Linked DNA regions of Homo sapiens: region 2 is linked to region 1. The links come from fine-mapping of genetic effects on gene expression. A gene starts in region 1. The other region holds a variant in brackets. All regions are shown on one strand. Distances are from middle to middle. Region 1 holds the start of AK2 (adenylate kinase 2). Region 2 overlaps AK2 (adenylate kinase 2).

The links. PIP is the estimated chance that this variant, and not a neighbour inherited with it, causes the effect.
Region 2: its variant is fine-mapped to the expression of AK2 in whole blood (INTERVAL, PIP above 0.99).

The regions. Positions count from the first base shown.
Region 1 is chr1:33,035,213-33,039,607 of GRCh38, reverse strand. It overlaps AK2 (adenylate kinase 2), which reads left to right and starts at 2,725. Exons shown (of 6, transcript NM_001625.4): 1 at 2,725-2,872. The coding sequence starts at 2,780. RefSeq lists an enhancer at 2,747-2,906.
Region 2 is chr1:33,008,383-33,012,777 of GRCh38, reverse strand. AK2 (adenylate kinase 2) reads left to right here. Exons shown (of 6, transcript NM_001625.4): 6 at 1-4,395. Among named protein-coding and RNA genes, the nearest start is that of AK2, 26 kb to the left of the region's middle. The variant C/T (reference allele first, on the strand shown) is at 1,976.

The sequences.
Region 1 (4,395 bases):
ATTTGAGACCAGCCTGGCCAACATGGTGAAACCCCATCTCTACTGAAAATACAAAAGTTAGCCGGGGGTGGTAGGGGCGCCTGTAATCCCAGCTATTCACGAGGCTGAGGCAGGAGAATCTCTTGAACCCAGGAGGCGGAGGTTGCAGTGAGCAGAGATTGCACCACTGCACTCCAGCCTGGGTGACAGAGTGCGGCTCCTTCTCAAAAAAGAAAAAAAAAAGACTTAACTTGTGATTCATTACACTTCAAAGTGTATTGAATAAATCTTACACTTTGTGTCTTTATGGATAGTCTTCCTTACTTTCCCTCCTGGGAGCCCTAAGTCTTGTCACAATCACTATAGGGATTGATGGTAGAAAGGGAAGGCTGCTCCTACTCCCCTTGCCTGGTCCCTGTGCATAGAAAATTTCAATAAACTCTGGTCTTATTGGACTGAAGTGAATTTTGGCCACAGAGAGGCTTCCTGCAGCTTGTTTTCCCATCCCTCTGCCCATAAGCCCTGTAATCTCTAGGGCACCTGCTTGTCATCCTCAGTTGTTTTTGTTTTTGTTTTCAGAGTCTTGCTCTGTCACCCAGCCTGGAGTGTAGTGGTGCCATCTCAGCTCACTGCAACCTCCACCTCCCGGGTTCAAGCGATACTCCTGCCTCAGCCTCCCTAATAGCTGGGATTACAGGCATGCGCCACCACACTGGGCTAATTTTTTTGTAATTTTAGTAGAGACGGGGTTTCGCCATGTTGGCCAGGCTGGTCTCGAACTCCTGACCTCAGGTGATCTGCCCCCCCCTCAGGCTCTCAAAGTGCTGGGATTACAGGCGTGAGTCACTGGACCTGGCTCATCCTCAGTCTTAATTGTGAGTCTGCTACTGTGTGACTTTGGTCACTACGTATCTTCAGGCCTCAGCTTCCATTCTGAATAATAGACATAACAATCCTTTCTTCCTTCAATGTCATTGGGAGTATCCAACAAGATTAAGCAGGTACACTGTAAAAGTCCAGCGTGGCGATGAGAAATGAATGTTGACTTCTGTGTGGTAAGGAAGAGACCACAGCTGGGCTGGGCACAGTGGCTCACGCCTGTAATCCCAGCACTTTGGGAGGCCCAGGCGCGCGGATCACGAGGTCAGGAGATCAAGACCATCCTGACTAACACGGTGAAATCCCGTGTCTACTAAAAGTATAAAAAAAATTAGCCAGGCGTGGTGGTGGGCACCTATAGTCCCAGCTACGCAGGAGGCTGAGGCAGGAGAATGGCGTGAACCCAGGAGGTGGAGCTTGCAGTGAGCCGAGATCGCGCCACTGCACTCCAGCCTGGGCAACAGAGCGAGACCACGTCTCAAAAAAAAAAAAAAAAAGAAGAGACCACAGCTGAAGGGATAGCAAATTCATCATCAAGATGTAGAAAATGAGTTGTTAGGAGCCTGTGGGGAAACATAATCGTTTCATTACACACTCTTAACTAAAGGTCCAAAGAGGCCCTTGGAGCTGGATGAAACTTTCACACACCAAAAAGCTGTAGAAATTATTTCCCTATCCAAGAGGGTCATCTCTTTTGAGAAAAACTATCTTTTCCTGACTTTAAAAGGTTAACGTTTTTCTTAATATAAAGGTAAAACTTGTTTTAAACTTAAGTTTTTAAACTTATTAAGAATTTACCATAGAACTTTAAAAAATCTATTAAAATATACAAAGGAGAGGTGCTCCTCTAATCACACTACACAGCGGTCTACACTTGTAATAAACAAAATCGGGATTTTTTGGGGGGGGAGTGGGACGGAGTTTCACTCTTGTTGCCCAGGCTGGAGTGTAATGGCTCAATCTTGGCTCACTGTAACCTCCGCCTCCTGGGTTCAAGCAGTTCTCCTGCCTCAGCCTCCCAAGTAGCTGGGATTACAGGCATATGCCACCACTCCCAGCTAATTTTGTATTTTCAGTAGAGATGGGGTTTCATCATGTTGGTCAGGCTGGTCTCGAACTTCTGACCTCAGGTAATCCGCTCGCCATGGTCTCCCAAAGTGTGGGGATTACAGGCGTGAGCCACCGCGTCCGGCCAAAATTCGGATTTTGTTGTAACTGCAATTTTGTATCTCGCTTTGCTAACATTTTCCCGCATGATTAAATTATCTTATACAACAGGGGTATTCCAGGATACAAATTGGTTGCAATTTATTTAACCAATCTCTTATTGTTGGACATTTGGAGTATTGCCTTTATTTTATGGTTTTTCTCGGGCTTTTGGGCTAAGTGTTGCAATTAACAACTTTGTTACACGAATCTTTACTCATATCCTTGATTTTATCCATTGAATTCGTGGAAGTGGAATTGCTGGACCAAAGGGTATTTGAAACATATTACTAATTTGTCTTCTAAGAGTGATTTTACCCATTTAAACTCCCACGCGCAATTTAATAGGATTTCAATGTTGTTGCTGGTGTCGTCAACTGTCAAATGCCGAAGTATACCTTCCGGCCTGACCTCCTGTCCTCCTTCGCGTTTTCCCGCCCACTCCGCACACCCGCCACCCTTAGTACATGCTGGCCCGCCCCTTCCTTATCCCGCACCAATTCTGTCCAATCAAAAGCAAAGTTCCTCAGTATCGCCGTGCAGTTGGTAAGGTGAAGAGTCCGTCGTGCTCAGGGGCGGGCGGAACGGGCTGACGGACGCGGCTATGGGCCAGTGTGAGCGGCGAGTGGGACGTGCGTGGCGTGCGTGCGTTGACCTGGGAAGCACTGGACCTGTGAGGCGTGCGAACTGGTGGCAGTGAGAGACTTCGGCGGACATGGCTCCCAGCGTGCCAGCGGCAGAACCCGAGTATCCTAAAGGCATCCGGGCCGTGCTGCTGGGGCCTCCCGGGGCCGGTAAAGGGACCCAGGTGAGCGGCAGGACTGGGCTTGGCGGCGGAGCCTGCTGAACTCCAAGGTCAAGGCGGCCGGAGATCTAGAAGCCCTGGACCTGCCCGGAGCGGGCCGGGGACTAAGGCCTGCGGGGAACGCTGGCCGGGGTCTCGGTTCTGGTGGGGCATTTCGGAGAGGGTCCAAATTGGAGGTCGGGGCAGTCTGAGTTAGGATTGGAGTGCCCGAGGGATTCAGTGTTGAAGTGTTGGGTTAGGGAATGTGAGGGCTGATTAATTCCACTAAGGGTCTAGAGACTGGAAAGGTTTGAGGGGTAGAGTGAGCCCTGGGCCGAGGCATCTAGATTACAGGCTGAATGGAGGCAATTAGCTTTATGGCCCAGGTTACCTGCGAGTTGGAGGTGAATTGTCCAGAATCAGGGTTACATTCCAGGCACTGGAGGTCGGGAGATTTTGATAATGATTTATGACTTAGGGGGAGGGGAGGAGAAGCATCTCCAACACGTGGGGCAGAGTGAGAGGTGACATGTGCTGTGTGAGCCAGTTGAATTGAGATGGGAGGAAACCTAAGGCTCTCCCTGTTTGAAAGTTGGGGGTGAATGTGTAGAACTGGTTTATAGCCTGGAGACCCATGAGTCGCAACCTTTGAGTAGTGTCCACAATAAGGGTTGGGAGTGCTCATGGGACCTGGCTTGGAGTTAGGACCTGAGGCTACTGAAGGCTAAGCAGCTTGGGATGACGCAAATGATTTTAGATGAAAAGGAACTTGAATTTTTTTTTATTTTGTTTTTATTATTTTTGTTTGTTTGTATCTTCCTTCCCTTTGGTTTTTATTTATTTTTTCCTTTTTTTATTTTGTTGTTGTTTATAGGGAACTTGAAATTTTAACTTTATCAATCAACAGGTTAAAAAACAGGCCCAGAAAGGTCAGGTGGCTTTCCCAAATTAGTGAAATGAGTTTCATGAGCCTGAGACCTCAGGAACCATGGAGTTAGAGTCTGAAGTTACCATCTGCCCTAGCAGGCAACAGGGGCCTCACTTGGGATCTGGGCCCCTTCTAGATCTGGGACATAATGGGGCCATAGATTAGGGTTGGGATCGATGATCTCATTTCGGATTTGGAAGCCCGCAGGTTGGATTATTGATGTCCCCTTCTTGCTTGGGGTCTGGCATTGCACCTGGGGCCCTAAGCCTCTGGCTCTTGCCTGTTGTTAGGCTTCAAAGAGGGAAGTCTGAGCTCCCAAATGAAAGGGAATCTGAGGACTGCCCTGTGCCCGCTTTTCTCTTCCTAGCACTTGCCAAGTTTTAAAAATCTTGGCAAACAGACCATCTTACTCATTCTTGGTACCCCTTGTGGCACCTAGCACATTACTTGGCCCTTGATGGGGTTAGTGGAAGTGGATGAATGTCACAGATTAATGTGGGTGATAAAGAAAGAAGTTCTGGAACACTCCATTCATTCCTGTGACCTGGGCACTAAGTCAGAAAATACAGCTTTCTTTTCTCTCCACAGACTGAGATGATTCTTCTTTGGAGCTTACCTG
Region 2 (4,395 bases), 27 kb after region 1:
CTACAGGTGCATGCCACAACACCTGGCTGATATTTGTATTTTTTGTAGAGACAGGATTTTGCCAAGTTGCCCAGGCTGGTCTTGAACTCCTAGGCTTAAGCAATCCACCCACCTTGGCCTCCTGAAGTGCCAGGATCACAGACGTGAGCCACTACACCCAGCCCAGCTGTTTACTTCTTTAACCATACTTTTGATTTTATTTTTTGACCAAAATGAACTAACCCAGGTAATCTTCCAGGGACCGCAATTCCAGAACCTCATAGTATTTCTTCCATTTCCAGCAGCTGATTAGAAGTCCAGGATCATGTGAAGTCAGGCAGGGTCACAGTTCCTGATGGCACATTATGGACAGAGAATTCCATTTTGTTTTCTAACCCATGATGAAAACCCACGTGAGTCAGTGTGTGAACAGGGATCATTAATTTTTTCCCCCTAGGTGGAAGGAAAAAGGCACTTACTTTGCAGGTTACAGAAATTACTGGGAGAGGATATCGTCATAAAAAGAGCCAGGCCAAATTGGAATATTTTTGTGATCTGCATCATGATGCTGAAAATAGCAATTATTTGGGAATTGGGTTTGAAAACTGAATTGTTGCCAGAGAATTAAACCAGGTGAAAGGTCCTTTTGAATTCAGATTGTCTTCTGAACATCCAGGCTGATCATCTGAGAGCAGTCAAATCTACTTCCCCAAAAAGAGACCAGGGTAGGTTTATTTGCTTTTATTTTTAATGTTTGCCTGTGTTTCCAAGTGTGAACAAAACAGTGTGTGATCTATTCTTGGATTCATTTTGATCAGTATTTATTCAAACCCAGTCTCTCTCCAGGACATAAAACTGAAATCAGATATGTTCTTTTTAAGCCCAAACCCTCTCCTTTCTAGATCCAACCCTTCACCCCTAATTTTATGATGGCTATAGCCATGGACTTCCCCAAGAAAAGATCACCCAGAAATAAGACCACCTGTGACAGTTACCAGCTTTTATTCATAACCTTAGCTTCCCAACTATTGAGCATTTTCTAAGGTCCCTGCTGTCTTTTGGTCTCTGGTTTGATTTGTGGCAAACAGATGAAGTAACAGACTGCTATGAAGGACCACAAAAACGGCAGCCTCTGGAAAAACCATTAGAAAGTCAGTGGCAGATCCAGTAAATAATATCGCCAGCCTCAGCATAATCTGCTGCTGACTCGATTCAGTGGACTCTAAAGTGCCCAGCCTCCTGACCTGAGCTCTCCTGCCATCTGTGAGACTACCAGAGGTCTTATCTGCTGTCCACATGGCAACTGGGCATGAGTACCTGGCCACCTTGCTTCCCTCTTTGCCTGGTCCAAGTGAGTGTCTGCTGCCTCTGTCCTGCCTTGTTTTCCTGGCTCTAAACCAACTCCACCCACTCTTAATGGAAACTCAGTCTGGCTTTGTGTGTTTCTGGGAAGCACATGACTTCTGGGAATGGGCAAGGAAGAGGAGTGAAACAAAAACTGTCAGCTATGTGTGCCTGGTCTGGGATCCTTCTCTGGGTGACAGTGGCATCATGAATCTTAGAATCAGCTCCCCTTTAACTAGGGACAATTGTAAGCACTTGGCCTCAAAGTTGAGGTTCTTGAATGTTTGCTAATTTTATGTGCATGATCCTTGCCCAAATATTTGTCATCCGTCCACATAGATTCACGTGTGCATACAACATGTACAAGTAATATTTGGGCTGCCCATAAGAACTGGAAGATTCATAGGGAATGCATATACCCTTCTCAGTATGGTTAGGATTCTGTTTTTGCTTCATTTAATTCCAGAGTTCCTCAGCCTCAGCAGGTTCTGCTTTTACCTGTCACAGAAATGTCCAGTGTTTAATGCATTTGGTTGCTGGGGCTTACATGCCAGCCTCCTCTGATATGTACTTGGTTTTTAAAAACCCATTTTGTTCTCTCTTGTTTCCTCTCTATTTCAGCCTAGTATCAGAAGGCCAGGCGAGACTGCAA[C/T]ACTGCTCATCACCCCGCGGCGTGATCCCTGCTCTTAGGTGCTGGGCAGAGGGGAAGGGTGGTCAGGGTGAGGATGGTGAGGGAGGGCTGGTGAGGGGCTCAGAGGAATACTTGGAACAACAGCAGTGTTATTGTAGTGTGGCAGTTTCTTTTATACATAGGTGAGAGTTTTTAAAGTGTAAGGGAAAAATTAATTTTTTAAAAAACACCATGCTTGGAGGGTGGGGGTAGAAATAGACACAATATTATTTCTAAGGAATCGGGTTTTCATTTACTCTGGACTGGTGAAAATATTTTTTAAAGCCAGTGCTCTAAGACCTCAGCTTTTATCTCAGAACCCCATGGGTTCCAGACCAAGAGTACAGGAAATCAAATTGTTGTCCTGTCTGTCTATAGCTTGGAACAGGGAGCTTTGATTACTGACTCCGGTTCCACACACTGTAAGATCAAAAAACCATCTCCACATTTGAAAGAGATGTAAGGTGTATTCATAGGGATGGTGGCTCAACAAATCAAGCAAACTGGAATCAAGGGGAGGGGGAAGGGAATGAAATGGAAAGGGAGGCTGATTCCCTTCCCCTGACTTACCACTAATTTACTAGGCTACCTACTTTCATGAGTAACCTCTCACAGCTACCCAGCACATGCCACAATCCTATGCTCTTGCCTTCTTTTATCTGCACTGTGTGAAGGGACTCTTTTAAATAAATGAGCAAGTGTCCTAAGCTATGTCATCCAAAGATTGTCCTTTCCATTCTCAAATCCTGTGACTGGGATCACTCAACAGCACTGTGATGTATTATTTTCAATGAGGTGCCTTTCTTAACTGACCAAATGCTGCCTTGTTTGGCCCCTAAATCAATAAAATATGTTAAAATTTGTATCCCCTGTTGTGGCATTTTTTTTAGATAATCTAAGCTAGAAAAATGACATTGAATTCTGGACCTGGCTGGAAGGAAAAGAAGCCCTTTCTTGTCGCTGGCAGCTGTGTGGTAGGGAGGTCCAAGTATGTGCATATGAGATAAGCCTGCAACCTCTTGACCTTCAGCTCCTATGCAGGCTTCTCTTGAGCCCAGAGACAAGGCAGCTTGGTCTAGTGGAGATAGCACTGTGCTTGGAGTTCAGGGGACCTAGGACAAATCCCAGCCAGTTAGTTATTCACTGTGCTCCTGTTTCCTCAGCTGAAAAAGGAAGTTGGTTATGCCACCTTCTTGGCCTTAATGGCATTAAATGAAATTTATAGGAAGAAGGTTTTTGCTCAGTACCTGGCATGCAACAGACATTGGATAAATGTTAGTTGGATCCAGATATACACAGAAAGATATCTGCTTCCTGCCAGGCTGGATAACTGTTGAATGGACACTTGTCCATAGTCTAGAAAGCCAGTGCTTCTAATCCTTAAGCCAGATCTTTGACTACCTTTTCAGTTGCTTCTTTAACACTCTTTGTTGCTTCTCTGTGTGTCCTAGTTTAAATTCATTTCCTCTCCAGCAAAAGTGAGCTTAAATAATTTCTCCAAACTAAAGCTCTCATGTTTTTGGAAGGGCTGCCTTTGCAAGTGAGGTTTCTGAGAAATGACTGTTGTTCCCAAAACAAGAGGGAGCTGGGCTGGAAGCACCACTATTCTTCTTTAGGCATCTTGTTACAGAGAGAGGCAGGGTCTTCACTGACATATTAAATCCTGTTCCCTGAACCAGCCCCTCCCTCTTCTGCTCCACTTCCTCACCTGTGCAGAGTCATTTTCAGGTGTTAGCCTTACTGATTTGCACTGATCTGTTTGTTCCCTGAGCTTTTTAAATACCCTGTGAAAATTTTCTTTCCTCCCTTGGTCATCATGCATCTAATTGTGGGGAAATGTTTGTCAAACCAACCTGCAAAGCAGCATGGTGTAGTTGAGAAGAATAAACAGAGAAGACTGGGTGAGCTATTGTTTGTTTGCTTCTTTGGGCCTGGGTTTCCTCATCTAATCTGCAAACCAAGAATGCAGACTAGTCCTACCACTCCCGGAAGACTGACGTTGTGCCAGGTATTATGCAAAGGCTTCATGTAACCCTCGACTTCACGTAACCCTCACACAGCACCCTGTGGAGTCAGAACTGTCCTTCACTTTTATAGGTGAGGAAACCAGACTCAGAGAGGTGAAGTGGCATTCCTGAGGTCATGCATAAGAGGCAGTCAGGACTGAAACACAGTCTCTAACACTTATCCGTCCCCTTGATCTTGTTGCTGAAGTGATTTAATTACTTGCGTAGCTCTGCACACAGGAAGGGCTGCTCTGAATAAGAGCTCTTTTCCATGGACACTCAGCGCTGCCGGAACTGATTTTGAAGAAGTCACTGCCGGCTCTGAGGGCCTAGGGTATGTGTCTTAGGATCTCCTGTGTGCACAAAGTGTCACTGACAGAACACAGCAGGATGGAG